3 linked regions of the Homo sapiens genome follow. The protein of the gene in region 1 interacts with the protein of each later gene in a biochemical or structural test. Each region holds a gene or a part of one and is shown in the gene's direction. Other genes may lie near its edges.

The links.
Region 2: the proteins of RAB6A (region 1) and CHM form a complex in vitro, tested with the Homo sapiens proteins (one study listed by BioGRID).
Region 3: the proteins of RAB6A (region 1) and APBA1 form a complex in vitro, tested with the Homo sapiens proteins (one study listed by IntAct).

What each region holds. Positions count from the first base shown.
Region 1 is NC_000011.10:73,715,989-73,723,099, reverse strand, and holds part of RAB6A (ras-related protein Rab-6A), read left to right. Parts: intron 1-2,200; coding exon 2,201-2,254; intron 2,255-4,209; coding exon of another isoform or gene 4,210-4,315; intron 4,316-4,381; coding exon 4,382-4,487; intron 4,488-6,737; coding exon 6,738-6,849; intron 6,850-7,111. UniProt on the Homo sapiens protein: The small GTPases Rab are key regulators of intracellular membrane trafficking, from the formation of transport vesicles to their fusion with membranes.
Region 2 is NC_000023.11:86,044,489-86,052,237, reverse strand, and holds the start of CHM (rab proteins geranylgeranyltransferase component A 1), read left to right. Parts: upstream 1-4,679; 5' UTR 4,680-4,705; coding exon 4,706-4,754; intron 4,755-4,909; exon of another isoform or gene 4,910-5,127; intron 5,128-7,749. UniProt on the Homo sapiens protein: Substrate-binding subunit of the Rab geranylgeranyltransferase (GGTase) complex.
Region 3 is NC_000009.12:69,515,328-69,522,438, reverse strand, and holds part of APBA1 (amyloid-beta A4 precursor protein-binding family A member 1), read left to right. Parts: intron 1-5,159; 5' UTR 5,160-5,228; coding exon 5,229-6,428; intron 6,429-7,111. UniProt on the Homo sapiens protein: Putative function in synaptic vesicle exocytosis by binding to Munc18-1, an essential component of the synaptic vesicle exocytotic machinery. May modulate processing of the amyloid-beta precursor protein (APP) and hence formation of APP-beta.

The sequences.
Region 1 (7,111 bases):
CATTGGCTCATGCCTATAATCCTGGCACTTTGGGAGGCCGAGGTCGGGGGGAATCACTTGAGGCCAGGAGTTCGAGACCAGCCTGTCCAACATGACAAAACCCCATCTCTACTAAAAATACAAAAAGTAGCTGGGCTTGGTGGTGAATGCCTGTAATCCCAGCTACTTGAGAGGCTGAGGCACTAAAATTGCTTGAACCCAGGAGGCAGAAATTGCGGTGAGCCGAGATCACGCCACTGCACTCCAGCCTGGGCGACTGAGCGAGACTCTGTCTCTAAATAAATAAATAAATAAATAATCGATGAACGAATAAATGAGAACTAAATGGGGCAATGTGTATAAATCGGCACTTAGTAGATAATCAATTTATGTAATTTACTGTAGCTTTCATTCTTGAATATATGTAAAAACATGTAAAGACTTATCAACATTGCATTGATTTTTCATATAAAGATATTATCTTTAGGCAGGGTGTAGTGGCTCATGCCTATAGTCCCAGCGTGTTGGAAGGCCAAGTGGGGAAGATCTCTTGAACCTAGGGGTTCCAGACTAGCCTGGACAACATGGCAAAACCCTGTCTCTATAAAAAAATACAGAAATTAGTGGGGCATGGTGGCATGCACCTGTAGTCCCAGCTACTCGAGAGGATTGCTTGAGCCAGGAGGTTGAGGCTGCACTGAGACAAAATCACACCCCTATATACCAGCTTGGGCAAGAGTGTGAGACTGTCTCAAAAAAAAAAAAAAAAAAAAAAAATATATATATATATATATATATATATATATATATATATACACACACACATATATATTTGAATTTTATTTACGGAAGCATCAGAAAAGAATAAAATACTTAGGAACAAATTTAACAAACAGCATAAGACTATACAAAACACTGCTGGGAGAAATTAAAGGAGACACATGTATTAGTTTGTTCTCATGCTGCTAATAAAGAGATAACCCAAGACTGGGTAATTTATAAAGGAAAGAGGTTTAATAGACTCAAGTTCCACATGGCTGGGGAGGCCTCAGGAAACTTACAATCATGGCAGAAGGGGAAGCAAACATGTCCTTCTTCACATGGCAGCAACAAGGAGAAGCACAGAGCAAAGAGAGGGGAAATCCTTTTATAAAACCATCAGATCTCGTGAGAACTCAACTATGACACACACAAAATTCTATTTTTCTGCTAACAGAAATAAAATCCCCAACTGATGGACCACTTTTCTGATCTAGTTTTTGATTGTTTTTTAGGAACTTAAAATTCTTAGTGACTCATATTTTAAAATGCACAGACTCAGTTTCTGTTTTAAGGAATATGGCACAAAGATATTTAGGGAAAAAGTATGTATGTACACGCACATATATACATAGTATATGTGCACACAAACATTAATGAGGTGGTAAAACTTCTAAAATAGAGTCCATATCAACATCCTCTTTCTGGAGTCTGTCTTTCTTCCATTCTTTTTATTTATCTCCCCTAATTAATACTGGACTGTTTTTTAACTTGTATACTTTTTTTCCTTTCTTTTTTGTAGTCTGCCTTCTTTCTATTCTCTTATTATTTCACCATTTTCTCTTGATAGGGAAAACAGCAGCCAGGCAATAGAACTTTACATTTGTTTTCACCACAGAAGGAAGCTATCATTGTGTGGTACAGAGGAAAACTTGTTTTCCTTACCTAATGACTTTTATTTTATATTGGAAAAATCATGTCTCTTATGGAAAGTTATGATGTTTGTGAGTCTCTGGCTGTCTATGGCATTAGGACAGTTGACAATATATCAACAGTATTTTATAAAACTGCTCTTGGGGCAGATACTTACCATTCTGAGTGGAGAACAATCAGATACTCAAACTAAAGTTCAAATACAAATATTTAAACCAAAGTTGCCATTGTCTTGTTATTTGTAAAATGAGAAAAGTAGGGATGAGAATAAGCTACCTGGCAGGAATGTATAAAGATTAGAGATGATCATGTAAAAGGCTTAAAACAATCTCTGATATGAAGCAAGTGCTGAATACATGAAAATCATTATCACTGGAAATTTTGTTTGTCCTTAATTGTCCTTAATTGACTATGTTGTATTGATTTGTTTATTCATTATTTCTTCCACAATCATGAATCCCATTTGAATCCTAAACTGCTGGCCACCATTAAACTTATTATTTGTTAACTTCTTTGTTTTGTTTTACAGGCAACAATTGGCATTGACTTTTTATCAAAAACTATGTACTTGGAGGATCGAACAGTGAGTAATATTTTCAGTGTGCAATTTTCTGCAACATTCCAGGTTAGAAAACTGCAATCAAAGTTATCAATGATTGTCACCATAAGAAGTACTTAGCAAAGTTACCAAAGATAGTTTACAGTTGTTGAGAAAAACTCTTATTACCGAGTGAGTAGTACTTGGCAGTCATCTTGATTTGGAAAAATGAAAACAAAGAGCTTTACAGAGAATTAAAGGAGAATTTTTATGAAGAAATTAAACCTGCTAAAGACCTTCTAAATGCCACCCTTGAGGCATTCAAAAAGATTTCAATTTGTGAACTTCAAGATTTTTTTTGTCAGGATAGGATGCGTATCAAAGTGACTGACAAAAAAGAAGTTATGTGGGCAGGGTGCGGTGGCTCACACCTGTAATCCCAGCACTTTGGGAGGCTGAGGCAGGTGGATCATCTGAGGTCAGGAGTTTGAGACCAGCTTGGCCAACATGATGAAACCCCATCTCTATTAAAAATACAAAAAATTAGCCAGGCGTGGTGGCGGGCGCCTATAATCCCAGCTACTTGGGAGGCTGAGGCAGGAGAATCGCTTGAATCCAGGATGCAGAGGTTGCAGTGAGCTGAGATTGCGCCATTGCACTCTAGCCTGGGCAACAAGAGCGAAACTCCGTTGCAAAAAAAAAAAAAAAAAGTAATGTGTATTTATTTGTTGGATTTTTGTCTTTCATCCTTTGGAATGTTTTCTTTAAATACAGTGTAAAATCTGTATTCTAGCCCACTACCCCTTGAAGAGATACTTGTCACCTAAACAGTGAATATCTTAAATGCAGTACTTTGAGACCTGCACCCAAAAACATTATTTAATTTCCAGTGTTATTTCTTAGGTGTTTTTTTTTTCCTGAATATTCTCTTTTATGTTTTGATATATAGCATGTCATTTCTTAAAATTTGAAAGCGGCCAGGTGTGGTGGCTCACGCCTGTAATCCCAGCACTTTGGGAGGCCAGGATGGACAGATCACCTGAGGTCAGGAGTTGAAGACCAGCCTGGCCAACATGGCGAAACCCCATCTTTTCTAAAAATACAAAAATTAGCTGGGCGTGGTGGCGGGCGCCTGTAATCCCAGCTACTCGGGAGGCTGAGGCAGGAGAATCGTTTGAACCCGGGAGGCAGAGGTTGCAGTGAGCCGAGATCACACCACTGCACTTCAGCCTGAGCGACAAGAATGAGAGTCTGTCTAAAAAAAAAAAAAAAAATTTGAAAGCTTGGAAACGACTTTATCATGATGCAAGAACTTGATACTTGTTTTCAGGCTTTTCTTCCTGTAATATAGATATGGATAGTACGTAAAGACATTTTTATGTAGGGCTGCAAAAAGATCTTCCTCCTTTTTGTTACATTATACACACACACGCGTGCATGCGTGCGCGCACACACTCGCATGTTCTGGGGAAAATGTATGGGAGAAATACAAGCACGGTAGTTAAAAAACAGGTTTGAAAGTATTCTAGACCCAATAGGAAAGAGACACATTTTAGCTTGAGAGAAGCTTTCAAAGAAGCATTAATTCCTTTACTCTGATAGCTTAGGCTGCTCATTGACATTTACCTTAGGTTTTTTTGTTTTGTTTTGTTTTTTTCTCTATTTAACCATCAACAGTCTACTTTTTGCCACTTGAAAGGCATAGGGATTCAAACAGGTTTTAGGTAGGGAAAAAGGGAAGCCATATTTCTGATTCTGTGAAATTTTTCCCAGTGGCATTTTCCAGTCATTTATGTTTGGAGTATGCAAATTTTTAATATTTCTCCCTTTTGAAAAAGGAGTTTTGTGTTATTTTCATTCCTCACTCCCTGCAACCTCTTGCATGAGTCTTCTTTCTACTTCCTTCCCACCCTCTCCCTTTTACAAAAAACATTGTTTCTTTTTTCTTTTTAGTATTAGTTTGGTTTTTTTTTTTTTATTTATTTTTTCCCATCTCACAGATCAGGCTTCAGCTGTGGGATACTGCGGGTCAGGAACGTTTCCGTAGCCTCATTCCCAGTTACATCCGTGATTCTGCTGCAGCTGTAGTAGTTTACGATATCACAAGTAGGTATATTGCAACGGGTTGACCTTTCTTATTTTTCTTGCTTGTTTGACTGATTTTGTTGTTAGGTACGATTGCAATTATGGGACACAGCAGGTCAAGAGCGGTTCAGGAGCTTGATTCCTAGCTACATTCGTGACTCCACTGTGGCAGTTGTTGTTTATGATATCACAAGTGAGTGGAGGGAATTATGCATTTCTAATCTTCTTTCAACCTTTAGCTTAGCTGCATGCATGTTCTTGTCTTGTGCTTGTTTTCCTTACTGGCATGTAAAAATAAGTTTTATCATAGTAAATTACATACCAGCCAGGTCAGAAATATTTGCTTTGGTGTTTATACCAATATGCTTTATATGTAACTGTGCCAGGTTTTTTGCCCCAGAAATTTTCTTTTGGGTCCAACTATGAATCCTCTTCAAGGGTTTCTTAGTATCCTGTTATTCGTAAACCATACCATAATTATAGTTGGAGGAATGTTTCCTTGATCTCAGATTTCTCTAAAATAAAATGATCTGCATTTAAGTCTCTTGCCAGGTTTTCCAAATCCTCCAAGCTTTCTATTGAGGCTATTACAAGCTTCTGCTAGCCAGCTTTTCTCTGCTTTCCCCTTCCAGCCATTCTCTCTCTGTAGAGGAAGACAGAGAAAACATAATGTACAGTTTTCTATTAATCTTTTTTATTTGAATCATATTTTGGTTCTGTGACTGATTTATTTACTTTGTTGCTAACAAATTACACTTTCATTTCTCTCCAAGAAAAAAATTTTAAATAGGAGGTGAAACAACTAGTAGTCTTTTTCTTTTTTCTAAAGATTGAATAATGCCTGTGGCCTTTTAAGTGATTGTAAATTTTCCATGAAGCATTGGTGACTGACAAGAAAATGCTTTCTGATTGAAATTGCCTTTGTAAATTGGTTTATGACATATATTAGGCAATATTAAACATTATTACATGTAGTGGTTCATAACTTATAGGAAAACCAGGGTCTTGAACTCCTGGGTTCAAGTGATCCTCCTGCCTCAGCCTTCTAAAGTGCTAGGTTTAGGCCGGGCACAGTGGCTCACGCCGGAAATCCCCATATTTTGGGTGGCCAAGGCAGGCGGATCACCTGAGGTCAGGAGTTTGAGACCAGCCTGACCAACGTGATGAAACTCCATCTCTACTAAAAATGCAAAATTAGCCAGGTGTGGTGGTGCATGCCTGTAATCCCAGCTACTTGAGAGACTGAGGCAGGAAAACCTCTTGAACCTGGGAGGCGGAGGTTGCAGTGAGCCAAGACCGTGCCATTGCACTCCAGCCTGGGCAACAAGAACAAAACTCTGTCTCAACTACAACAACAACAACAAAAACTAAAGTGCTAGGGTTACAGGCATGAACCATTGTGCCCAGCCCAGTATCTGGGGCTTTCTTTTTAAATTTTTAAAAAATGTGTACCACACTACACAGATGTAGTATCTTGGGCTAAAAAAAATCTTAAATAGACAAAGGAACTATTCATTTGGACTAGTAATACTGTTACTATGCATTCTTGCATATCTCCTCAATTAGGAATTGTTATCTAATAACGAATAATTGTGCTGGCAAAATTAGAAGATTGCATTCAAGGACTTTTTTTGAGATAGGTGCTATATGCAGTCTTTCTTCCTTTGCACCTTTACTTTGGGTTGCTGTTTGTTTAAAAAAAAGAGGTATGTTCATATTGTGCATTGACACGTTTTGTAGCTTTAAAATGTTTGTGCTTACTTTAACCACAGCAAGTGAAACCTGGTGTATTTTTTTTTAAATCCACAAATGTGATTCAAATATTAGTACGTTGTTTTCTTTAGCTGCTGTAAGAAGTGTTGAAGTACTCTACTTAGAATCCAACACTAGAAAAGATAAATTTTGTTACAAGTGTTTCTGATGCATTAAACAAATAAACTTTAGGTTAAAGTGATCACAAACTGAGGAAGCAGTGCAAACAGTGGTGTTGAAAGCTATTGAAAGGCTTTACAGATTTTCTGGATGTGTTGGGACTTACTGGCTGACATACTTTGGAAAATGCTTTCTTTGTCATGTTTGGTATGTGTAAGTGATCAAAAAAGCATTGTGGCAATGTGACACCATATTATCTGCCATAGCTGTCCTTATATTTCAAAAAGTTGTTTTTTTTTCAATTAAATACTACATTGTACTCATTTGATCATGTTCAAAAAATTTTTAAACTACTCTAAAAGGAACCTTGAAGATTTTATTCTTGTAATTTGTTTAAATTGCTGACAGTTGTAATCAGATAAAATGGAGTTATGTTGCAGGCACATTAAAAGTGGGGTACTAATGTGCCAGCCCCCTTCCAACTTCCAGGGCTTTTTTGGAGGGAGGTGCCCACCACCTGGGGAGGCATTTTTCAGCAACACTAATCTCTCTGTCTACCCTCCTATACTAGATGTTAACTCATTCCAGCAAACTACAAAGTGGATTGATGATGTCAGAACAGAAAGAGGAAGTGATGTTATCATCATGCTAGTAGGAAATAAAACAGATCTTGCTGACAAGAGGTATGGAGTTATTTTATATGTGTGTAATGTTTGATTTCTGTGATGCAGCCTTTTATTTTTGTTCACTGAGAAATTGTTTTGAAAGGAGACATGCTTAATCCTTAAGTTTACGTCCTCCCCTGCTTTTCTTTAGCATGGGAACCTCAAATATAAATGTAAATATTAAACAGCCAGTCCTTAAGGGAAATGAATTTTATTTTGTTTAAGCCCATGTGTAAATAACTCTTGTGCAAGTTTGTTTAGACATGAAGCCAGTAAATAT
Region 2 (7,749 bases), on another chromosome or scaffold:
TCATACTGAAGATTTACTATATTCAAACTTTGGGGATAAAAAATAGAAGAAAACAAGTTAATCTATTGAATTATAAATTTAAATGAGTAGTATCTATACTTAATCTTTTCTATGTGTGTGCTTGAATATGTATAGGCAATTTTAATTAACTGGAAGATCGTTTGATAAAATATTGGGAAACTTTGCAATCAGGCCACTGAATATTCAGTTTAATTATGTTGGTATGCACTTCTATTTGCTTCTAATGCCAAGGATCCATTGGTAAAATGAATGCCCATTTTGTGGTCTGTTATGCAGAAAATGTTTAATCCAGTGTTTGATTTACTCTGTTAAATCTTCCTTATTGAATGTGTTTATTCATCCATGCAAAATTGGGTATGCTGCTTTCTGTTACTATGACATTACAATTAAACAGCTAAAAGAAGAATAGCAAGACTTTCTATAAAGGTTGATGAAATTCCCACAAAATTATTCAGCCTCTTTGTTTTGTTTCGTTTTGTTTTGTTTTGCAGGGACTATGAAAAATGTAAATGTGTTCTGAATATTTCTGTATTGAAGAAGCTGACAAATACAATAGTTAGTACAAATAATCATTTTGTTACTAAAACTAACACTTAAAAAATATTTCTAATATATGGAAATAATTGCTGTCATGACATTGATTATCTTTTAAAGATGGAATTGAACATGAACTCAAAGACCTCAATTTTATAAACAAAAATGGTATGATAGAATAGTATTTATACACATTTGAAATGGAAAACTTTAAGTTAACTTCATCTGGATATATTGTGAAACTCCTCAAGGGGGTTGTATACTCACAACAGCACTAGTTCATGTAATTTGAGGATATTCTCCAGTAGACTGGACTTTCTTTACTTTTAGCTCTGTTTTATTGTCCAGAGTATTGGTACTGGTAAATTTTTACCACCACTACAACTACAGGCTTGGAGACACATTTTTTAATTCAAAATTAGCTTTAATACTAGTTCTGAATTGAAAAAAATTCTTTATAAGTCTGGAACTTATAATAAGATGTAATAATCTACTTCCTGAATTATTATTGCTTATTTTTCATAGTGTTAAGAGATACACATTCATACAAACACAACTATTTTCTAAGAATCTCTTTTCAATTGAAATGTCTGAAATGAGACAAAGAATTCAGAAACTGGATGTCAAGGATGCTCAGTAAGCATCCTTGAAATTCAATCCAAGGAAGCCAGAAAAACGATCCAAGACTTGACAGATGAAGCAGTCATATTAATAAATAACCAAACTGAACTTCTGAAATTGGAAAATTCACTATAGGAATTTCAAAATACAGTTGAATGCCTTAACAACAGACTAGACAAAGCAGAGGAAAGAATTTTGGTGCTTGAAGACTGGTTATTCTAATCAACCTACACAGACAAAGAAAAAGAAAAAGGAGTTTCAAAAAATGAATGAAGCCTCGGAGAGATATGGGATTATGTAAAATGATCAAACCTACAACTCATTGGCATTCCTGAGAGAAAAGAAGTGACAGTAAGCAAGTTGAAAAACATATTTCAGGATATAATACATGAAAAATTCCCCAACCTTGCAAGAGAGGTCGACATGCAAATTCAAGAAATTCAGAGAATCTCTGAGACATATTATGCAAGATGACTATCTCCAATGTACATAGTCTTTGGCCCAGTGGGGTGGCTCACGCCTGTAATCCCAGCACTTTGGGAGGTCAAGGCGGGCGGATCACGAGGTCAGGAGATGGAGACCATCTTGGCTAACATGGTGAAACCCCGTCTCTACTAAAAATACAAAAAATTAGCCGTGTGTGGTGGCGGGCGCCTGTAGTCCCCGCAACTCGGGAGGCTGAGGCAGGAGAATGGCGTGAACCCGGGAGGCGGAGCTTGCAGTGAGCGGAGATGGCGCCACTGCACTCCAGCCTGGGCGACAGAGAGAGACTCCGTCTCAAAAAAAAAAAAAAAAAAAAAAAAAGATGTCCTTAGAATAACAGAATAGATGCAATTCAGCTGTTTTGCTTTACGCTTTTTTTACTGCAATTATTAACTCCTATATTCATCTTTACTTTGCATAAAGTCTACAAAAATACATTTGAAATAAAAGGTATTTGGAGCATTTTCTCCATGCACAAGATTGAAATTTTCCTAATGTAGTAATCTTTTCCATGCCCAGAAAAGGGCATGAATAAGTCCCATAATAACTTTAGAGAAAGAACAGCAAAATATAAGTTGGTAATATTATCCTTCTGAGGATTGTGCTTTCTATCCTTAGGGGAAAAAAAGAAGGTTTCAAACTAAGGGCAGCACAGATTGGAAAATCTATGCTACAGAGTAATTACTTGTTTATTTTGTTTTACCCTACTAAATGTAAACTTCATGAAGACAGGGGTTGTTGTCTGTTTTGTTCATTGCTCTAATCTCAGCATCCAAAATAGTGTCTTGCACATAGTAGGTGCTGAATGAATATTTGAGGAATAAACAAATTAATGAATTGCATCTTCATGGTGTGATTGTCAGAAAATTTCTGAATCCCTAGAAGGTCAGTGATACTCATATTGAAAAGTATATGTATGTAGTTTATATATCTCGTATACATGAACAAATGTATATAAATATATATCCAAAGTATGGTAGAAATACTTTTATTTATCAGGTTTTTAACCATCCATCTGTGGCTTCTCATTATTAGAGAAGATTTTGGAAAGTTTTCTGTGTTTACTCTGAGAAATCCATTTGTTTCCATTTTCTACTGTCTTATCAAGAGTCTCACAAATAATATCTGTTTCACTTCTGATAATACTAAAAACTTGCTTTACATACCAAGGCAAATGACAAAGTGGTTTACTGAACAGTACATTATACTTCTCAGGGGAATCTGTTTTACAGAAAATACTAATCAAAGACCATATCTTAAGAGAGTTGTGTAATACAACTGGATGATCTATAAAAGAAAGTAATGAAACATGTACAATGTTGCTAATGATTATGGTAAAATGCAAGAGAAATGCAGTAAAAAGCGTATCAAAATACATTTTAAAGCATTTTCATGTAAATATTTACAATTAATGGACACTGAACATCTTCTAAATATAAGACACATGATAGTGGTGGGCAGATATAAAGGCAAAGATGGTAAGCACTATGAGGACAGGGACTCGTCTCATCCATCTATTAGGGGAGTCAAAATCAAGTTTGGTTTAGCAAACATTTATTAAATTCCTACTATGCACCGGGCTTAGGTTAGGTGCAGGAGTGAAAAAGATAAATGAGACTTGGTGTCTGTCATGCTGTACAGGGGTTTATAATTATGGTATTGCATGTCTGGGTGTGTATTTTTGTGTGGATATATGGGGATATGTGTACTCTATAGGAATCGTCATAAATGCAGTATGGCGGGTTAAGACAAAGTCTAGCACCATGTAGGGAAACAGCCCACACACGGAGACGAAAGGAGGAGGAGGTGGAAGCCCAGCGACATCCTGGGAATAACTGTTAGCTAGAGAATGGGAAGATCATTCCATGCTGAAAGAACAGCATGAGCGTGGTCAGAGACTGGAAAGAAAACAATGTCTGGGGAACCACAAGCATCTTAGCGGATAGGTGGTGTCAGGGAAGGCCCACTACTGCACATTATCTTTGATTTATTTTGAAACTCTTGTAAAATAACTACACAAGAAATTTCTGTCGTCAAAAAAGTATCCTCCTTCATTCCCAGCATCCTTCCCCTTTTGCTTTGGTGTTGTCAGACAGCGGAGTATTAAATAATCGGGGGCAGGGTGGGGGGCGGTTGGAGGGAAGCGGTGGGAGGCGACAGACCTTGAAGATACTTATGAGAGCTATGTTAGCTGTTAGACATAGACGACCTAAAGCCCCTCATCAGATACAATCACTTTAATATAAAGACCATTTTACCTTAATTATTTCTACGGTAGCTTATGGAAACTAATAGATTGGAAACTAAATGTAAACTAAGGAGAATCTTACATGAACTTATCTAGTTGGTGCGGAAAATCGAATTCAGACTCAACAGACGCTTATCCAGCGCAACCATGCTTTCATATATTTTTTCCCTCCTGTAAAGCAAGGCTAATTTATTGCCCGAGTGGCTGTCTGGACTAACTGGAACAAATACGGACGCGGTGGGAGTTCCATTCTGGCGAAACTAGGGTGAGAGGTTTTTTGTGGGTTTTCATCGAGGAGACATGGAAACGAAAAAGATATGGAATATATTCTGAAAGTATTGGTGTGAAAAACCATGCCTCGAGGGCCAACACGAAAGTACAGAAACGATGGCGGGAAACAGTTTTTTAGGCTGGAATGAAAGTCTCCTTTGTTCACAGAGCAAACCGCCTTCAATTTCACTCCGCTCTCCGTGTCTCCTAACAATTTTGCTTCAGTATTGTCAAGGGGTATCCAAGTCTCCCACATTCATCCTAGCTAACGGAATAAAAATCTACATTTCTTTCCTACTTCAACCCTCCAGGCTAAATGAGCTACAGCATTCAGCCTGGAAAATGAGTCGAGCTTTTAACTTACGTGTAAACATTTTAAATATAATACTGTAGTCGCCTGCCTGGACCTTCCACCCAAGAACTACAACACCCAGAATGCACTGTTTTCTTTTCCGCCTTCCACGGAGGGAATGCCTAACTTGATCTCATTTCCACAAGTAATAGTCACATGACACGTTTCCCGTCAAGATGGCGGATACTCTCCCTTCGGAGTTTGATGTGATCGTAATAGGGACGGGTATGTGTAGCCTGGTGCTTCCTGGACAAAGTTTAGGAAGACTGTCTTGTTTCTGTTTTTTCTGTCAGTGGCGAGTTTTGGGACAAACATCGTGGGTCGAGAGTGGGAGGGAGAACTGAAAGGAAGTGAGGTAGTCCGGAGTCAGCGCGGGAGTTGGCAGTTACAGGGAGGGGCTGGGACCCGCAGTGCTTATCGCCATTTGAGTAGGGGTTGATCTGGTCGATGCTGATTGCTGAGGTTGGTTGCTGCGGTGATTCCTGTTAATTTCCTTAGAGGGAAGTGGATGTGCAGTGTCATGAAATGGAGGGTCGGGATTTTATCAACGGAGACGACTTTGGCAAGACATTATGATTCCTTCCTTATTGATTTCAAGGTGATATTCCCCATCATTTTGTCTCGCCATTTCATAGGACTTTTTCATAGATTTGTATGATCTTAGCATACATCGCAGCTCAGACACAGCTTAATCCTCAGTTTTACAAGAAAGATGCTCAATTATTGCCCATGTGCGTATGAATTTACTAGGGAAAGTAAACGGATTCTATTTTGTTGAGAAACCTAGGGAATTTTATTTTGTTGAGGTAGCCATTATTCCTGCTTTATGGTGCTTAAAGCATCTTGCTTTCTACCATCAATAACTAAATGTGCTGAGAATAAGGTCCTGAGTTCCAGTTCAGGTGTGTGACCTTATCTAACTCTTGTTTTCCCGTCGTTTGTTCTTCATGTTTTGGGTGGAACCAGAAACTCCTCTGCAGTTTCTAGTTGACATATTCAGTGTACAACACGTAGCAGAACACATATGGCAGCAATTTCAATTTTTTTTAATAGTGTAAGGGATGATCATTTTAGATGGAATGAAATAGGTTGTTTGATGGGGTTTTTTACTGTTTGTAGAATGTGGTAGGCCAGAGAAGCTCTGGTGGATGGGACCCTGTCCATTGTGTTAATGAATTCAGTTCGTTGTCTTCTCATACAGCCATGATTAGGAGCAGCCATGTTTTCAGGTTGGGAGTAAAAATAATAGCTACCTGTTTTCGAATGCTTAAAATTTCCTAATCACTGTGCTAAGCACTTTACAAGCCGAACATAATCCTCACAACCTTGTTAGAGTAGTAGGTACTCTCTGCATTTTGTAGAAGAGGAAAAGGGGACTTGGAAAAGTTGTAATTTGCTCAGGATCACACAGCTGGTAAATTTCCAAAGGCCCATTCCATCCCAGGAAAACAGTCAGTGGTTCTGATCCTCAGAGTTGACCCATATTCGTAGAAACAATTGAGAAAACTTGGTTTTAGGTCTTGCTTAGTGCTAGTATGAATTGCTTGAATTGGGAGGGCCAGGCACTAAATCTCTCTGAGCCTCAGTTTCCTTGTTTTTGAATATAAGGAAGGTAAAATAGATGGTCTTTATGTTGTCTAACAAAAAATGCCTGGGTAACAGTTCTCAGAACAGCATGGACAGGTTTATTCTTAGCCTGAAAATAACTGCATGGCTGCAAATAACCTGGTTGTAGCTGCTATGAACAGATGTTGGATGAGAGCTGGAAAGAGCCAATGGACTATTCATTTTTTCTTTTAAGTCTATACTAAAACTGAGAACAGCATCCATTTTGGAATAGTTGTTATACCATACTTGAGTTTTATAATCTTGCTTTTTTTGTGTAGGAACTTGAGGTGTTTTTAACAATTTTTTTAATCAACAATTTTTTTTTTCAGGTCTGGGTTCAAATTTTAATTGATGAATGTTAATTCTTATGAATGATGCTAATGTTTTTCATAAATATTTTGCCTTCTGTACAGTTCAGAATTGGAAGACATCCATCCTGATGGAGTCTGTTATGGTAGAGGTAGGAAGTTACAGTGAGTGAGCCAGAGAATTGCATCAGGTGACATCGCTTATATTTGGAAAAATACTCATTTTATACTTATCCCAGTGAGTGCAATGTTATTTTTCAGTGTTTGGGAAGAACTTATTTGAAGTTAATCTTAAAACTTAAATTTTTCATATTGTTTATTGGTGACACATTCTAGGTTTTATCAAGCACATTGCTTAAATTTATGATATGTAATTTTGCTTTTAGGTACATCAAAAGTGTAAAAATTGAATAAAAGAGTCATTCCCCAAATAAATGATTCCAACAATTCCAATCATGATTTAATTTGATTTATTTTTTAGTGTGCTTGGGATATTTCTCTTGTGAAATAGTTTGCTGAAAGTAGCCTTTAAAATGTTTGCTTTATTAAATGTATTACATTGAGCAAATCATAGAAAAAGCAGTGTTTCATAGATTCAGTTGTATTAATAAAAGTAGAAGCAATAATGCATGCATCAGAAACATGAAGAAATAGGCTATTAGATATACTTTTTAGCAGATTTAGTCCTAGTTAAAATGTCATAAAGGAACAATTGCTTCATCAAGTATAATCATGGAAGATAATATTTTATAATCCCTTTCACCTTGATTAACTTGCATTATCATTTTCTGTAATGCAAGATGGAAATTGTTCCTTAAGATCATATTTTCGAGAGATTATGGAAAAAAATAAACTTTGTATTTTCTTAGTTAAGCCCATTTCCTTCTGATTAGAAAATACAGTAAATATCTCTTGAACATCCAAAGACAGAAGAGTAAGCTAAAGTGGAATTGCGGAAAAAATAGAAGAAAATGGAATAAAGAAGGAGGGCCAACTGGAGTCTCAAGGGAGAGGATAAAAATAGATATATGTGGTAAGGGTCTAGAAGGTGCTCTTCAGCTTGGGTACAGAATTGTCATTTTCAGGGTATTTTGCCATTTAAAAAGTCATTTAAATGACAGTTTTGTGGATTATAGACAAGTACCATTGGTTGAACGTTAAAAGTCGTCCCAGTAACATTACATCTCACTGGAGGTGACTTATCTGGAAGCCTGTGTAATCTGCAGCACAGCAGAGCCAAGAACTCAACAGAAGAGCAGTCAAGATGGAAGTTATAAGATCTATATGATAATATTGACATGCTT
Region 3 (7,111 bases), on another chromosome or scaffold:
GAAGTTGAAGGAGTTTGCATGAGTGAATAAGGGCAGCAAAGATTTAAGATAGAAAGAAGAAATGAGTTCTTCTCCAAAGGCTGATCATGCCAATGTCTAGAAGTCTATAAGGCCCCAACTATTGGGTGGGAGGGGTGGGGGATAAAGATTTTTCCTTTTTCAGTTACTAAAAATTCCTTTACCACCTTCTGTATACCCTCTGTGCTTGGCATCAGAAAATCAAAGATACATGACAAAACATCTTTTTCTTAAGGACTTGATACTTACAAAGAATTACCACTCAGAATGATAGAAGCCATGATAAATTTTATATATATACACACACACATATATATATATATAATTTATATATGTGTGTGTGTGTGTGTGTATAAAATGGTGTGAGTATGTGTGAGACGGAGAGAGAAAGGGAAAGGGAGAGAGAGAAAAAGCACAGCGGGCACAAAGGGAGGCTTAGTTGGGCCTTATCAATCCCCTGCTTAAACTCCCCAGTAGCATGCCACCACACTTGAAATAAAATCCACATCCTTTACCATGATGTACCAGACCCTGCCCAACTCAGCCCCTTTCCATCTCTTTGTCCTCATCGCCCATCACACTGTCCCTTACTCACGCCACACCTGCCTACAAACATTATTTCTGTCCTTGAACACAGCTGATCCTTTCTCACCTCAAAGCCCTTGCCCTCAGATCTTCACAAGGCCACCTCTTTCTTGATTATTCAGACCTCAACTCAAATATCTCATTCTTTGAATAATATCTACATAATGTCCTCTCCTCAGTCATTTTCTATGGCGTTACTCTGTTTTGTATTACCTTCATAAAATGTTTCCCTATGAAGTTATCTTGTTTACTTACTTACATAATTATTGTCTGCCCTTTTTTCCCTCTGACCCCCGACCCAGTGCACTAGAATGGGGACTTCCTGAAAGCAGGGAAGCCTCCTCTGGCTTGCTCACTGTTCTGCCCCAGTGCCTCGAATGTGCCTGGAGGCTGGCACCTAATTAACATTCATCAAGTATGAATGTGGCCTGGGGAAGACAAGAAAGATTCACCAAAGAAAAGTTATAGGTTAAAATATGCCATGAATAGGGAGGGCAGTTAGGGCCAACACCAGGACTTTGGCTGTTAGAATGCAGGGTGCGGGATGAAGTGTGGAGATGGACTAAAGGGGTGAAGCATCCCAAGGTCTTTGTTGGCCAGGAATAGGACTCAAGAGCCCAGACCCCAGAGCTAGAGTGCAAAGATCAAATGTCAGGGGGCCTCCCTTACCAGATGTGTGACCTGGGACAATCACCTAACCTTTCTAATCACTTGTTTCTTCATTTTCAGAAGAGCTGATAATGGCAGTACTCTTCATTAGCTAGTGTGAAGGTTAAATGTGTCACGTGGAAAATGCCTAGTAGTACCTGGGACATAGTTAGCTAAGCATTTATACTGTGCCCTAGAAGGGAATCACTGAAGAGTTTGAGGAGTAGGGTTATGGGATTCAGATTTGTATTTTTTAAAGATCATCAGGCTGGCAGTGGGGAGGATGGACTGGAGGGGGCTGATAAATCAGAGTCAAGGAAACAACCAGGTAGTCAAGACAGACCAAGACAAAGCAGTGGCAGCAAGACTGATCCAAGAGTTATTAAGACAGTGGACTCTGGCATCAGTTTGAGGAGGGAGATAAGGGAAGGAGATGATTCAGTGGGTGGCTGGTGGTACCATTTGCCCATATGGGAAATACAGGAGGGAACCCAGTTTGAGAGCGAGGGTGGGTAGGGAAGGTGAGGAGGTGTGATTTCTTCAGCTGTGGCTGGCTGAGTTGAAGTGTTATGGGAACTCCAGGTGGAGCTTCCCAGAGAGAAAACCCCCACATCTTTCTGATCACAATATAACCCTAATATGATTAGCATTGTACTTATCAGTACCTAATAAATATTAGCGCTTAATATTTGGTGTTTAAAATTTTTGCTTTTGAAGAAAATACTGTGAGAAACATTTTTGTCCACATTCAAGTTTTTTCTTTTAGACTTCTATATGTAGAATTACTGGGGCAAAAGGTATGTTACCTTTTGAAGAATTTAATTCATCTTGCCAAATTGCTTTTCAAAAATTTTGTACCAATAATATACTCCCACAATAACCTAGGATTTTTAAAAAGCAGCTTAAATGTTTTTTATAAATACCACTCCCAAAGTTGCCAGCGTATGGAGAACAGTCCTCTTGTGTGTAGGGATAAACCTAAGCATCAACTTCGGCTCCTTCCTTAAAAGTTGACAATTGCCTTTTTGTCCTAGGGAAACCCCCAAAGTCAATGTCTGTTATTCATTAACATGTTGCAATACCACAACCCAAATCATATTCTTGGAAACATGATGGTGTGTAAAATACAAACACTGTATGTGTAAATACTCCCGTGAGGTCTGTGGATGGGGGTATAAGGAGAAGGTACTTAGTGAACAAAAAGATCTATTGTACCAAAACTACATTAACACTATCTTCCACCACCCCCTGCCCCACCAGAGAACTTCCTTTACCACAGTTTAGTGTATATACACGCAAGGAAGTTCCATTTCCTTTGAATCAATACATGGGTTATAAGAGGGCACCATTCACCGATTTTAACCCAGAATAAGCTAAAATTTCTTTTTAATACATATGTCAATAGATTTTCATCAAGCTAAAGAACAGCCATTTTCCCTGAAGGCAGCATTTTGGTCAGTTCCACATATGGTTATCATGAATTGTTGGTCATTCAGGTACTTTCTGTGGTTTTTGTTACTGTTTTTCTTACGCTGACCACACACAACTGTGACACCTCTGGGTAACAGAACCCAAGAAAGTCTGTGATATGTTTGCTATCCCTTTCTGTGAATGCTCACTTTGTGTTTATTAGAATTAGATTTGTACCTTAAGAACCCAATGTAGATTTAATGAAGGTTTATCTGTTGTCTTTTTGAGAAAGTCCTTATGAAGGCAACTTGGGTATGATGTTCTTGTCCATGTGTTGTATTGAATTGAATATTTGTTTTGTGTTTCTTATAATCCACTGGAGGCCCGTAGCAGCAACACTTGCTGCTTCTGTTTAGAGCAGGGGTCCCCAACCACTGGGCCATGGACCAGTATTGGAGCATGAACTCTATTGTGAACTGCACATGCAAAGGATCTAGGTCATGCACTCTTATGAAAATCTAACTAATGCCTCATGATCTGAGGTGGAACAGCTTCTAATCATTCCCCACCCCACCCTGCTGCTGGTTTACAGCCTTAACCATCCATCAAGGTTTGAAGGGAGATTCATACTTGCTTTTGGAGACTTTCTTATACTTAGTCCACAGTCGCTGTTCTCAGGAGTTAATGGGAGGAGCCCAAAATTTTTCAAAAGAGGTTGGGTCTAATTTGTATCAAGTGGGACTTATGTCAAGTAGCGAAGCAATAAAGATTGTTCATCTCTTGTAAACCGTGATTCTTTTCTTCTAGCGAGAATCAGTCAGGGGTGGATCCATCAAAGAATGGGGAAGACATGATACTTCTGCTTGAATGTGGACTTGGTAGCTCCAAAATGATCTCCTTTGTTATTGGGATGGTCATCAATGCTTGAAGGAAATTGCTGTGGTTGTGATGGGGAGTTGAGTAGAATATAATGCATCTCACTACTAGAGAGTCCATCAGATGTCCCTGGTCCTCCTGGGGTTGTCTGTTATCATATTTAAGAGTTCACTTCCCATCCATTGTGTCCATTTGTAAGAAAGGCTCTCCAAAAGAACATAATAGCAAGTTTACACATACTGTTGAGCCTATTTACCATAGGGATCTCAAAATCATAGGGGTCCTGCCTGTTTTGTTGTGGTTGTTTACATTCTTTGTGTCTATTTCTATATACTGCACAGATTATACCATAAAGCTATTTTGTGATAAGAAGAATTGAGAGAGACTGAAACCAAATCTTTCTCTCGAGCTACAAGTTTCTCTGAAAATAGAAAGAGACCTACCCATATTTTTAAAAAATTACACCTGTTATCCAGTTCTAGCTATAATGGCAACTCATAAAATCTTAGAATTTTAGATTCAGGTTACATGGGGAAAGTGAATATAGTCCTCCCTTGGTATCCATGGGGGTTGGTTTCAGGACCCCAGTGGATATAAAAATCCATTATAAAATGGTATAGTATTTGCATATGATCTATGCACATCCTCCCATATACTGTAAATCATCTCTAGATTTCTCATAATACCTAATACAATATAAATGCTATATAAATTGTTGTTATACTGTATTTTTACTTGCATTATTTTTTATTGTTGTATTGTGTTGGATATTTTCCCCTAATATTGTCTTCCGTGGTTGGTTGTATCCTGGATGCTGAGTGCGCAATAGGGAAGCCTAACTATTAGAAACCAGCTGCTATGTAACATTGGCCTCTAGGAAAAAGTGTCTCCTGGTCAAACAAGTTAGGGAAACCCTGTGTCCTGCATCTTCCTCCTTCTGGATATTAACAATGAAAAGTCAACTGTAACTCAGCATTTTCCAAACTTACTTGACCACCGAGTCTTTTTTACCCTATATAATAGCTGTTAACATCCTGCATGTAGGAAATGAGTCCAGTCACACCGTGGAGGTCCAGAAAATTAAGCCACTTGCCTGAGGTCACAAAGTCAGTAATGACAGAACCGGGGCGGGACCCCACTGCTGGCTGATAGCCTCTCTCAGAATGGCTTCAAAAGGTGTTCAAGATTATGTTTCTTTGAAATTGATGTAAAGAGTGATTTCTAAAGTTGTAGGATCCTAGTTTAATTTGGAGAGATTTATCTGTTAGCAGATGGAAAATGTGTCAGTTGGCCCATTCAATTTAGTAGTACTCTTTATTCAGATGCATCAGAAATGGGACCTGAATCGTATGCGTGGTGGAGAACAAAACGTTCCTGAGGCGCTCAGTGTGAGGGGTGGGAACGGAGAAAGGCAATAAGCAATTAAACAAGTAGATATGTAATTACAAATTATGATGCGTGCTATGTATGTGCTGTCAGATTGAACTTAAATTTGCAGTCTTTTTTTAATTGACCCAGAACTAAAAGGAATCAATAGCAGTTGTTTTTATGGTTATCTGAATACTCAGCTCATAACGACTGTTTGCACCACGTGACAGCCTCTCCCCTTCTTGTTTTTCCAGCCCAGTGGAGCAAAATGAGAGCGCAGTGAGCCGGGCCCAGCTTCTCTCCTAGCCGTTCCGACTCCCACCATGAACCACTTGGAGGGGTCTGCGGAGGTGGAGGTGACCGACGAGGCGGCAGGTGGGGAGGTGAACGAGTCGGTGGAGGCCGACCTGGAGCACCCCGAGGTGGAAGAGGAACAGCAGCAGCCGCCGCAGCAGCAGCACTATGTGGGCCGCCACCAGCGCGGGCGAGCCCTCGAGGACCTCCGCGCCCAGCTCGGCCAGGAGGAAGAGGAGCGCGGGGAATGCCTGGCGCGCTCAGCCAGCACGGAGAGCGGCTTCCACAACCACACGGACACCGCCGAGGGCGACGTGATCGCCGCGGCCCGCGACGGCTACGATGCGGAGCGCGCGCAGGACCCCGAGGACGAGAGCGCCTATGCTGTGCAGTACCGGCCCGAGGCCGAGGAGTACACGGAGCAGGCAGAGGCCGAGCACGCCGAGGCCACGCACCGCCGCGCGCTGCCCAACCACCTGCACTTCCACTCGCTGGAGCACGAGGAAGCCATGAATGCGGCCTACTCAGGCTACGTCTACACGCACCGGCTCTTCCACCGCGGTGAGGACGAGCCCTACTCCGAGCCCTATGCCGACTACGGCGGCCTCCAGGAGCACGTGTACGAGGAGATAGGGGACGCGCCCGAGCTGGACGCACGCGACGGCCTGCGGCTCTACGAGCAGGAGCGCGACGAGGCGGCCGCGTACCGCCAGGAGGCCCTGGGCGCGCGGCTGCACCATTACGACGAGCGCTCCGACGGCGAGTCCGACAGCCCCGAGAAGGAGGCCGAGTTCGCGCCCTACCCGCGCATGGACAGCTACGAGCAGGAGGAGGACATCGACCAGATAGTGGCCGAGGTGAAGCAGAGCATGAGCTCGCAGAGCCTCGACAAGGCAGCCGAGGACATGCCTGAGGCCGAGCAGGACCTGGAGCGTCCCCCTACCCCGGCCGGGGGTCGCCCCGACAGCCCCGGGCTGCAGGCGCCGGCGGGGCAGCAGCGGGCGGTGGGCCCCGCGGGCGGCGGCGAGGCGGGGCAGCGGTACAGCAAGGAGAAGCGCGATGCCATCTCGCTGGCCATCAAGGACATCAAGGAGGCCATCGAGGAGGTGAAAACCAGGACCATCCGTTCGCCTTACACCCCCGACGAGCCCAAAGAGCCCATCTGGGTCATGCGCCAGGACATTAGCCCCACCAGGGACTGTGACGACCAGAGGCCGATGGACGGAGATGTAAGTAGGTGCGGGTTTGGGCTTCCTCGGCCCCACGCGGTGGGAGGGAAGATGGCGCCCCATGGCCTTGTGTGCCCTTGGGTAGTGACTTTACGGGAAGTAGTCTGTGGGGACGCTAAGAACTTTTCCACCGTAAGCCTCAGAAACAGCTTGCACCTAAACTGTCAAACGCCAGCGGGAGAGAATTAAAGTGTTGAATGCACTCATCAGATTCTTAGCAGGATGGCCTCAAATCAGTGCTTCCCACACTGTGCCTGGAGACCTTGTGAGAAATGCATTATTGGGTACATCGCCCTCCACCCCCCGCCCCCCCCCCCCCCAGTTTCTGATTCAGAAAGTATGGAGTGGGGCCCGAGAATTTGTATTTCTAATGCCAAATAAAAAACAAGCCATGCTTGAGGAAGGAGAGACTTCACTGGAAAGGATTATTGCAAAGGGGAGAAAGATACTGTTTCGTTTTAGGGAGGAAGGACTGTTGCCATATGAGAACCTCTGACCTTAAGATCTTTAAGGGTCTCTAGAGTTAGGTACAAGGGGGAAGTTGTTTTATAGGGAGGAGTAGCCAAGTAGAAAGAATAGGGTATGTGAAAGTGGCATGAAAAGGGTGGGAGTTGAATGTGCTGTGGATCAGAGAATGTTTCCACCTGAGACCAGCGTTTTCTCAGGAGTGGTTGTATGCTGGC